Homo sapiens: one gene and its partners. The protein of the gene in region 3 interacts with the protein of the main gene of each other region in a pairwise test. Each region holds a gene or a part of one and is shown on either strand. Other genes may lie near its edges. The genes, in order: ZBTB44, CA9 and GLRX3.

Region 1 (3,652 bases), on a different chromosome or scaffold from region 3:
ACTAGAAAATCTAGACGAAAATTCCTGGACATATACACCCTCCCAAGACTAAACTAGGAAGAAGCTGAATCCCTGAATAGACCAATAACAAATTCTAAAGTTGAGGCAAAACCTCAAAAAAAAAAAAAAAAAAAAAAACACCCCTTCATGCTATAAACTCTCCTGAAATAGCCTACCAACCAAAAAAAGCCCAGCACCAGACAGATTCACCAGACAGATTCACAGCTGAATTCTACCAAAGGTACGAAGAGAAGCTGGTACCATTCCTAACAACAGAAAAAGAGGGACTCCTCCCTAACTCATTTTATGAGGTCAGCAACATCCTGATTCCAAAACCTGGCAGAGGCACAACACAAAAAAAGAAAATACCAGGCCAATATACCTGATGAACATTGATGTGAAAGTCCTCAATAAAATACTGACAAACTGAATCCAGCAGAATATCAAAAAGCTTATCCACCAGGATCGAGTTGGCTTCATCCCTGGAACGCAAGGCTGGTTCAACACACGCAGATCAATAAACGTAATCCATCACGTAAAACAGAACCAATGACAAAAACCACGATTATCTCAATAGACGCAGAAAAGGCCTTCAATAAAATTCAACACCCTGGCTGGGCGTGGTGGCTCACGCCTGTAATCCCAGCATTTTGGGACGCCGAGGCAGGCGGATCACGAGGTCAAGAGATCGAGACCATCCTGGCCAACATGGTGAAATCCCATCTCTACTAAAAATACAAAAATTAGCTGGGTGTGGTGGCATGCGTCTGTAGTCCCAGCTACTCAGGAGGCTGAGGCAGAAGAATTGCTTGAATGAGCTGAGATCACACCACTGCACTCCAGCCTGGTGACAGAGTGAGACTCCGTCTCAAAAATAAATAAATAAATAAAAATTAAAAATAAAAATTCAACACCCCTTCATGCTAAAAACTCTGAATAAACTAGGTATTGATGGAACATATCTCAAAATATTAAGAGCTATTTATGACAAATCCATAGACAGTATCATACCGAATGAGTAAAAGCAGAAAGCATTCCCTTTGAAAACCGGCACAAGACAAGGATGCTCTCTCTCACCACCCCTATTCAACACAGTACTGGAAGTTCTGGCCAGAGCAATCAGGCAAGAGAAAGAAAGAGTATTCAAATAGGAAGAGAGGAAGTCAAGGGTATTCAAATAAGAAGAGAGAAGGTCAAATTGTCTCTGTTTGCAGATGACATAATTGTATATTTAGAAAACCCCACTGTCTCTGCCCCAAAACTCAAGCTGATAAACAACTTCAGCAAAGTCTCGGGATACAAAATCAATGTGCAAAAATCACAAGCGTTCCTATACACCAGTAATAGACAAGCAGAGAGCCAAATCATGAGTGAACTTCCATTCATAATTGCTACAAAGAAAATAAAATACCCAAAAACACAACTTGCATGTTCAGCACATGCATCCCAGATCTTAAAAAAAAAAAAAAAAAAAAAGAAAAAGTACATCTTAATCCTTGCTACCAATGTATGTGACCTTATTTGGAAATAGGGTCTTAGCAGATGTAATCAAGTTAAGATGAGGTCATGCTGGATTAGGGTGGGACCTGAATCCAATGACTGGTGTCCTTTTAGGGAGAGAGAGATTTGAAGCCAGTGGCAAAACAGAGAGACAGGGAAGGTCATGTGAAGACGAACGCATATACTAAAGCACAATATCATATACTGGAGCTACAAGCCAAAGAACACCAAGGATTGTGGGCAGCTGCCACAGGCTGGAAGAGACAAGGAAGGATTCTTCCCTACAATCTTCAAAGAGAGAAAGATCCTTCAAAGGGAACTAACACCTGTCGTTCAGATTTCTGGCCTCTGACTATGAGAGAATAAATTTTTTTTAAACCATTCAGTTTGCGGTACTTTGTTGCAGCAGCCCAGGGAAACTCACACAGAGGGTAAAAGCACAAGAAACTAACAAAGTTAATATGGTCTTCCCGGTTCTCCAATATTTTGGACAAATCTTTATTATTCACTAGTGGCTTTTCTTCTATCCCTTCCCAAACCTGAATATAGGTATTCCCCAAGGTATCCCCTTGGTTTTGGCTCTTCTGTTTTTCCTATTGAGATTGAATTTGCCACTACTAGTAGAAAAGTCCCAAGTTGGGAATCTCACTTATCTTTTCTACTGCTTTTGAAATGACACTGCTTGATCATCATCCAAGCACAATTTACACAGAAGTGACCTTGATAATTTACTCTCAAAACTGGATTCCCACCACCTTCCACTGATTTTCATACGGCACTAACTACATTTAATAGATGCTAAAATGCTATTGATTCATATGATTGCCATTATTCTCTATAGCACTAAGGAAGAAAAAAGCAACTGTAGAAGACTGCCAACTGTAAGACATATCTGGATTCAGAAATAACAAAATATGAAAAATTGTGACTTAGAATCAATGGAATATAATAAAGTGTTACCATTATTTCCTAGTCATCAGAGTACTTTAACCTCTCCTGTTCTTTCAATATACATATTCAGTATCATCAGGTACTAAGTCTTTCTTTACAAAGTCTTGTAATATCTATTTTCTTTCACATGGTTTTAAGTCTTCATTCACACCAAGATAAGTGCACTGCAATTGGTCTCTGAGACTGTCTCTGTAAAACCAAACTCACTGCATGTCAATAACAGTTTTCCTAAAATATCTGCATGTTTTTGTTTTTATCCCTTTAATGTAGACTCCTTACTACCTACCACTAAGATAAAATCCAAGCTTACTTGGCCTACTTGTGGCAGACACTGCTAGTTGCATACTCAATATCCATTTTGCTCTAATTTTGTTCAAGGCATTTAGGTACCCAACTAATATACATTATCTTCCCAGATTCCCTTGCAGCTAGGAAAGACTATGTGACACAGACTAGCAGAAGTTTTTTAGGGATTTCTGAGAACATAGGTGCTTTCTTGATACAAAGCATTGCCCCTTTCTAGAATACAAAGCTGAAGATGAAATGAGCATCTTATGGATGAAACCAACAAAGTAAAGATGGCAGTTTATAAATATACAAGTTGCCTAGGCCACTGATTATATTGCAGATTCACTGTACCAGCCCTGGACTTTTATTCCTGAACACTTTGTGATAAAAAATCACAAGCATTCCTGTGCACCAGTAACAGAGAGCCAAATCACGAGTGAACTCCCATTCACAATTACTACAAAGAGAATAAAATACCTAGGAATATAACTTACAAGGGATGTGAAAGACCTCTTCAAGAACTACAAACCACTGCTCAAGAAAATAAGAGAGGACACAAATAAATGGGAAGACATTCCATGCTCATGGATAGGAAGAATCAATATCGTGAAAATGGCCATATTGCCCAAAGTAATTTATAGATTCAGTGCTATCCCCATCAAGTTACCATTGACTTTCTTCACGGAATTGGAAAAAACTCCTTTAAATTTCATATGGAAATTTAATGAGATACCATCTCACACCAGTTAGAATGGTGATCATTAAAAAGTCTGGAAACAACAGATGCTGTTGAGGATGTGGAGAAATAGGAAATGCTTTTACACTGTTGGTGGGACTGTAAACTAGTTCAACCATTGTGGAAGACAGTGTGGCGATTCCTCATGAATCTAGAAACAGAAATACCATTCGACCC
Region 2 (3,752 bases), on a different chromosome or scaffold from region 3:
AGGAGGCAGGGTCAGTTGCACTGCGTAGGGAGAGGCAAGTGAGCCGGCCCCGCCCGGTAGGGCCAGCCCAACCCCCGGGCAGGCACTGCCGCGACGGTTCCCTTCCCTGCGCCCCGCCCCATCCCCAAGTCTCGGCGGGGAGACCCCCTCACCACTGTGGCCATTGTTGCGCAGGCGCAGTTCTGGGAGCGGCGGGAGCTGGAAGCCCAGGAGTTCCAGGGGGCGCAGGGCCGGGCAGAAGGCGGCGAGCTGGGGGCGGATATCCACCGGGGACTGGAAGCGGCCCGCGCAGGCTGGGGACACCCGGGGCCAGGGCGGGTCGCCTGGGGTGGGAGAGTATAGTGAGGAAGTCTGACGCCTAGGTCAGGAACTTAGGGAACCCGGGTAGAAAAGGTGAGGGGGTGGGACGGTGGGCGGCGGGTGGGACGCCCGGGACCAGTGTTCAGGGACGGCTGTAGGGGAGATCCACAGAGCTGGGTTCCCAGATTGGGTCTGTGCAGCGGGTGGGTGTCTCACCTCCATAGCGCCAATGACTCTGGTCATCCCCTGTATAAATGAAAAGGATGAACCGCTCAAGCTTAGAGCCCCAATCCCTTCCTGGCGACCAAAACGATGTCACAAACGCAGATGCCTTACAGGAGCATTACGGGTAACAAATGCCTTAAGCGGGCCAGGTGCAAAGCACAGGAGACCGCACCCAAACTCAACACCGCAGCTGGGTGGGCCAAACAGCAATCCTACCAGCTTGCAATCATTGTCTTAGGGTCTGTAAAAGTGAGTGGCTGCTTCAGGCCAGGCGCTGTGGCTCACGCCTATAATCCCAGCACTTTGGGAGGCCAGGGTGGTTGGATCACCTGAGATCAGGAGTTCGAGACCAGCCTGACCAACATGGCGAAACCCCGTCTCTACTAAAAATACAAAAATTAGCCGGGCGTGGTGGCGCATGCCTGTAATCGCAGCTACTTGGCTAGAGGCTGAGGCAGGAGAATCACTTGAACCCGGGAGGTGGAGGTTGCAGTGAGCCGAGATCGCGCCATTGCACTCCAGCCTGGGCAACAAAAGTGAAAGTTTGTCTCAAAAAAAAAAAAAAAAAAAGTGAGTGGGCACTTCAGTCCTGAGTCCCAAATGAGTGAGTACACCATCTTTCCTTTCTCCCTTCTTTCTTCTCCCCACTCATCCCTCTGCCTTGTATGGTCTCCAACCCCTTTCCCCAAATTCCTGGCTTGGGAGTCAAGAAGCCACGTTTCTCTACCTGCTGTGTCCCTTCTTCCTAGGTCTCAATTTCCTCATTGTAGCCTAAGATGAGATGACTTCTACCAGCTCTTCTTGCTTGTCTCTGGTACCCACTTCACCTCCCAAGCTTTCCTTTTCTCTTCCCCTCAAACTCTCTGACTCTCCTTCTCCACCTATTTTTTTCCTCTGTCTGCACATTTTTTCTCTCATCTGCAGTTCTCATCCCTTTCTCTTCTCCAGCCTCCCCCTTCTCTCCCATCTCATCCAGCTCACCTCTCTCCTTTTGCACCCTTTTTATTTTCTCTCCACATCTGTCCCTTTCTACCTCCGAGAGTGGGGATGGGGATATTGGTATGGGACCTCTGGAAGGGCTTCTGTGGGGAGTACAGTCTCCCCTCCTTCCCTGAGTGAACAGAGCCTAGGCTGGGGTATGGGAGGGGAGTCATGAACCTCCTGGAACCTGGATTTGGAGATTGATGACCACTTACCTTCTTTGTCCCTGTGGGCATTATTCTGGGGTTCTTGAGGATCTCCAGGAGCCTCAACAGTAGGTAGATCCTCTAACTTCAGGGAGCCCTCTTCTTCTGATTTAGGCTTAACTTCAGGTAGATCCTCCTCTCCAGGTAGATCCTCCTCTCCAGGTAGATCCTCCTCTCCGGGTGGATCCTCCTCTCTGGGTGAATCCTCTTCACTGGGCAGATCCTCCTCGCCCAGTGGGTCATCTTCCCCAGAAGAGCCTCCTCCCAAGGGGGAATCCTCCTGCATCCGGGGCAACCTCTGGGGATGGACAGGCACCAGAAGCAGCAGTGACAGCAGCAGTTGCACAGTGAGGCCTGGAGCAGGGGCCGGGATCAACAGAGGGAGCCAGGGGCTGGGGCACAGGGGAGCCATGCGGCTGACTGTGGGGTGTCCCAGCACACGGTGTGTACGGGCTGTACGTGCATTGGAAACGAGAGCTGGGTGGGGGAGGAGCAAGCCTGGAGGGGAGCAGGCTGACTCACAGAGCGCCCTTTTGCAGAGATGGAGCCAAAGTCTCACAGGTTTGTCTGGCCCTGTGCCCTCTCCCCCATACCAAAGCTAGGATGGGGGTGGAGTGAGGGGCAGGTGTGTGCACAGGCAGAAGGTTATCGGGGCCATGGACTCAGCTTGGAACCCAAGGCACCACCTGGCACTATGCAGGCTCTCCCTGGCACCACCCAGCTGCTTGCCAGCCAGCCTCAGCTAACCCTGGCCTGCTTCCCAGCTCCAGGCACAGAAGGGGAAAGGCAGGGGAGCTGGGGCCCCCATGTCCTCTGGCTGAGAGGGAAAGCAGCTCATGTATACATCCCTGACTCCACCAGGAAGCAGGTAAAGAGGTAGGGCAGGCTGCTAGGGGAGCCCGAGGGTGAGTTAAGTAATGGGTATGTGGGAGACAAACTTGAGCTTGAATGAAAAGCAAGTGTATGTGTCAGAGGGGCTCTGATAGGTTTAACCTATATTTATTTTTCAACACATTACTCTCCTGCTCAAAAGCCTTCATTGGCTCCCCACTGCCTGCCACGATATGCACATTGTGTACTTCTGACTTCCAACTTCCTTCAAAACCTTGCCCAAGAGACCTTTCCATCTTGTCTCCTACTACTCTCCCTCATACTCTAGCCAAATTAAACTATTATTTTTTTCTCCAAACCTTTTACCACCTTTGTTAATCTAGTTCTTGCTCCCTGAAATGCTATTTACTATTGCATTCAACAAATATTTATTTAGTACTACCATAGGTCCAGCACTGGGCTATGGACTAGGGACATGGAAATGAATAAGACACGGTCCCTCATTTTGGGAGGCTGAGGTGGGTGGATTGCTTGAGTCCAGGAGTTCGAGACCAGCCCGGGCAACATGGCCAAACCCTGTCTCTACTAGAAATACAAAAAAATTAGCCAGGTGTAATGGCATGTGCCTGTAGTCCCAGCTACTCAGGAGGCTGAAATGGGATGATGGTTTGAGCCGAGGCGGTTGAGGCTGCAGTGAGCTGAGACTGTACCATTGCACTCTGGCCTGGGTGACAGAGCAAGACCCTGTCTCAAAAAAGAAAAACAAAAACAAAAACAAAAAACGCTACCTGCCCTGAGCAGCTCACAATCTAGTGAGTGAGGGCAAACCCTGTCAATATCATCATATTGAGGGAAGAGAGATGAATTCTGCTTTAGAAGATAATATAGAAGTAGGCAAATTTGATCATGTCCTTGAAGAAATACCAGTTCCATTGGTAAAAACAATAGGGAGAATGATATTCTGGGCAAAGGGAAGGCATAAAATATTATGAGCAGGAGAGTGACAGAATCCAGTTCTCATACTAGGTCACGTTGAGGGCTTGAGGGCTAGTATGGAGCACAGATTGCAGGGGAAGACTGGGTGCAAGGAGATGGGGCAGAAGAGTGTGAGGACACCAAGAATGGGCTTAGGCCTCCCAGTTTTTTTCTTTTCTTTTCTTTTTCTTTTCTTTTCTTTCTTTTTTTTTTTTTTTGAGACAGAGTCGCACT
Region 3 (3,652 bases):
ATGGGGTTTCACCATGTTAGCCAGGATGGTCTCGATCTCTTGACCTCGGACCTGCCTTGGCCTCCCAAAGTGCTGGGATTACAGGCATGAGCTACCGCATCCAGCCTCATTTATTTTTACATTACAGAATACTAACACTTTTTTGAGTTTATGAAAATCTTAAGCTTTTTTCATGCCACAGGACTCCAAATTCCAGCAATCTTGTGGAAAAGATATGGTACCATGTCAACATTTTAATAGCCCCAATAACATTGTTTCCAAAATGTATTAATACTTTCTAGGTTTCCAGAAAAAAATAGTTTTGAGAATAAATATCCACTTAAACCATTACCGAGAATAAGAAAAAATGTCACTTTATCATTACTAGGAATTATTAACTTCCTCTATTGTTTCAATACACTGAACCAAAATCAAAGAATTTAGGCCCTAACCTAATGTTTCCAACATGCTGAAATTTATATTAACATTTTCTTTGTTACTGTTACTTTCATTATTACCTAATTATATTAACCAGTTATGTTAACTAATTAGCTTCATTATACTAGTTATGTTAACTTATACACTAGTTATGGCAACCAGAGTCTGCCCTGTGAAGTATTGTGTCCCTTTCCCAATGAGCAAAGTGGTTCTCCATGTCACTTGCCCGGTGCATCTTGCTAACAAGTGAGGCAGTTTCTTTATTCCAACAGCCTCACCTTTCAAAACTTTGGTTTCTTTATCTCTAAAACAGGCCAAAGTCTGTCCAACCCTGCCTACTTCAACAACTGATTGAGAATTAAGTAGAGGTTCAATTGCTATGAAAATTACAAAATATGATATAAATGTGTATGGCTGGTTTCTGGAAATTACCACTCTGATCTCAATCTGAAAGAAAATTAGTTCTGCTCAAACTATCGGTGGAAGTAATCTATCAAACTTGATATTCAAAATGACGCATAATCAATATGTACTTACATCAAAAAGCTGTAAGAACCATCCCATTAAAAATGAGAATTGCTGACCATTTCACTCATTCATCAAACACACAGAGCACACCTGCTACAGCCAGGGTTTGCTCCTCCACTGTCACAAAAGGACGATCTAGGGGTGCAAACCCAAGCACGACCAGGTTCCCTGCATTCAGGAAGTCCACTGACTCAGCTGCACACTTCAGCAGTCCACAAACTCAAACAAAGGATAATGACATAACAACTCATACAACCAGTAAAGTGTTAACAGTGTTGACCACATTAGCTGACAAAGTTTGGCAGCAGAAAGAAATGCACCCCACTGAGATGTTGATGATAAAGTCAAGCAAAATGTAGATTACTTTGTTTGATCTCCGTAAGCACCAATTAAGGCGTGGATAACTTCCTGATATCGCTACAGCTTCATTAGCTAAAGCTAGGAAAAAGATTTAACTGTCCCCTTGTTGCAGATGTTAACATCAAAAGAAATTACAAATAAAACCATTTTTGAGTTCTTTACCTGTTTGTTTCCTTTCATAAAGAGCATCACAGAAGCTTTATTTGTCAGCACTTTGAGCCTAAAGAGAGAAAATTGATATAAAACGGCTCAGCTCAATTATGCAACACCACTTTTCCTCCGCTTCGTGAGTAACATGCATATTTGAGGGATGGCAGGATGACAGTTCACAGCTTTGAGTGGTATTAAACAAGCAAATGCGTTGACATTTTCCTTGATTTCATTCTCTCCCTAAGCCACTGTAAAACACAATATGGCTTTTAAGGCAACGAATGTTCCTTCAAGTTGCAATTTAAGCCCATCAACTCACAGTAATAAAAAAATAATAATAATAACCAATTCAGTAAGGAATTGTTCAATAAGGGGCCTATATATTAAGCCCATCCAAAACTTCCAGAACTAGATCTTGTGTGCACCATCTTCCATCATGATGCTGCATACCACTGTACACGTGTAAAGCTCACAAGGTCGGACTGCAGGGTGACAGCGTTAAACCTCAGAACATCAACTAATGCCAGATACTAAAATCAAATTCTCTCATCTTAACATGTTTTATATTTTATATAGTCTTTCAAACATCATAATCTAACATGCTGTCAGGAATTTTAATTATCTGTATACAGCCACAAGTTTAGTCACAAATCTCAAGAAAAGTCAGTGCTGGGACAACGGGTCACTAAAGAACCTAAGCCCCATGGGGTCACGCCACCATGTTCTCCCAATTCACAGCTCAAAAATCTCCTTAGAGGTTGGGCGCGGTGGCTCACGCCTGTAATCCCAGCACTTTGGGAGGCTGAGGCAGGTGGATCACGAGGTCAGGAGATCAAGACCATCCTGGCAAAACACGGTGAAACCCCGTCTCCACTAAAAAGTACAAAAGAATTAGCCGGACGTGGTGGCGGACGCCTGTGGTCACGGCTACCCGGGAGGCTGAGGCAGGAGAATGGTGTGAACCCGGGAGGCGGAGCTTGCAGTGAGCCAAGATAGCACCACTGCACTCCAGCCTGGGCTACAGAGCCAGAGTCCGTCTCAAAAAAAAATAATAATAAATATCCTTATAAACTCATCCCAAATGAAATGCATCAATCACGCACAAAGCTGTATCACTTACATTGCCAACCGAGTGGGATTAGCTCAAGTTCAGAAAAATATGAACAGATATAGGAATACAATGCTGACCCTGACAACCCAACTAACTAACCCAGTCACCTGGATACAGGGAACCACAGCTCACAAAGTACTGCCAAAATACATGTCACAAGTCCATGAACTCCACTTCCTACACTCTGCTCACTCGGAGCCCTTTAAATTATTACTCCAAATATGCTGAATTTTCCTTCCGACATAATTCTAGCCCGTTACCCTTTGGTGTCTGCAAGCACAGATTTAGAAGCAGCACATTAGGAAACGGAGGTCTGATGGAGACAAGGCCATTAACAGCGGCAAGTGCACTCAGCAGAGAAGGAAAATCAACTGAAGAGCAAATACAAGCATATAAAAAACACAGCTGTCTTTGGAGACCACACAGCCTCCATGGGCCAAGGGCATCACCAGGCTACAGGCAAGAACCACACATGAAGACGCCCAGAGTCAAAAAAGGGATGAGGAGTATCATTTTCTCATGAAGAACACAGGAAATGGTACCAACCACAGGACAGAATGCGGCACTCAAAGATCAGCCTGACATACGTGGATTGGACGCTGTTTATAGAAATTATTAATTAACGACAGACAAATGAGGTATTTATTATTATTAAACACTTTTAGAAATTCTCAAGATGTTACATGGCAAAAAAAAATTACCAAAGGAAGGTTTATCTTACAATCTCCAGCCCCAACTATGAATGGCTGATTGCTGATATAATAAATTCCTTTTTAAAGTTCTATATTAATTTTACTGCAATAAAAATCCCATTAAGTTGCCTTACACACCAAAGTCCAACATTTCTGTAAGAGAACGTCTCTAAAAGCCAAGTGAGATCCTTGATAAAACAAATACATGTTTCACACCTCCAAAATCTGTTCATGTAAGTTCTCGTGGTCTAGAAAGGCCATGAGAAGTGCTCAAAGCTTGTTGCGAGGTGATGAGTTTTTCACACTCACCACTTGTCACTCAGTGCTCTGGCGTTGGGGCAGCACCCGCAGCAGTCACCAAGGCTGCACCCAGTAAAACACGAGTGTGCTGAGG

Evidence for each region.
Region 1: the proteins of GLRX3 (region 3) and ZBTB44 interact in binary tests that used the Homo sapiens proteins (3 or more experiments, as listed by UniProt).
Region 2: the proteins of GLRX3 (region 3) and CA9 interact in binary tests that used the Homo sapiens proteins (3 or more experiments, as listed by UniProt).

The regions. Positions count from the first base shown.
Region 1 is NC_000011.10:130,255,784-130,259,435, forward strand, and holds part of ZBTB44 (zinc finger and BTB domain-containing protein 44), read right to left. Parts: intron 1-3,652. UniProt on the Homo sapiens protein: May be involved in transcriptional regulation.
Region 2 is NC_000009.12:35,672,332-35,676,083, reverse strand, and holds the start of CA9 (carbonic anhydrase 9 precursor), read right to left. Parts: upstream 2,157-3,752; 5' UTR 2,125-2,156; coding exon 1,722-2,124; intron 547-1,721; coding exon 517-546; intron 324-516; coding exon 153-323; intron 21-152; coding exon 1-20. UniProt on the Homo sapiens protein: Catalyzes the interconversion between carbon dioxide and water and the dissociated ions of carbonic acid (i.e. bicarbonate and hydrogen ions).
Region 3 is NC_000010.11:130,167,306-130,170,957, reverse strand, and holds part of GLRX3 (glutaredoxin-3), read right to left. Parts: intron 1,526-3,652; coding exon 1,468-1,525; intron 1-1,467. UniProt on the Homo sapiens protein: Together with BOLA2, acts as a cytosolic iron-sulfur (Fe-S) cluster assembly factor that facilitates [2Fe-2S] cluster insertion into a subset of cytosolic proteins.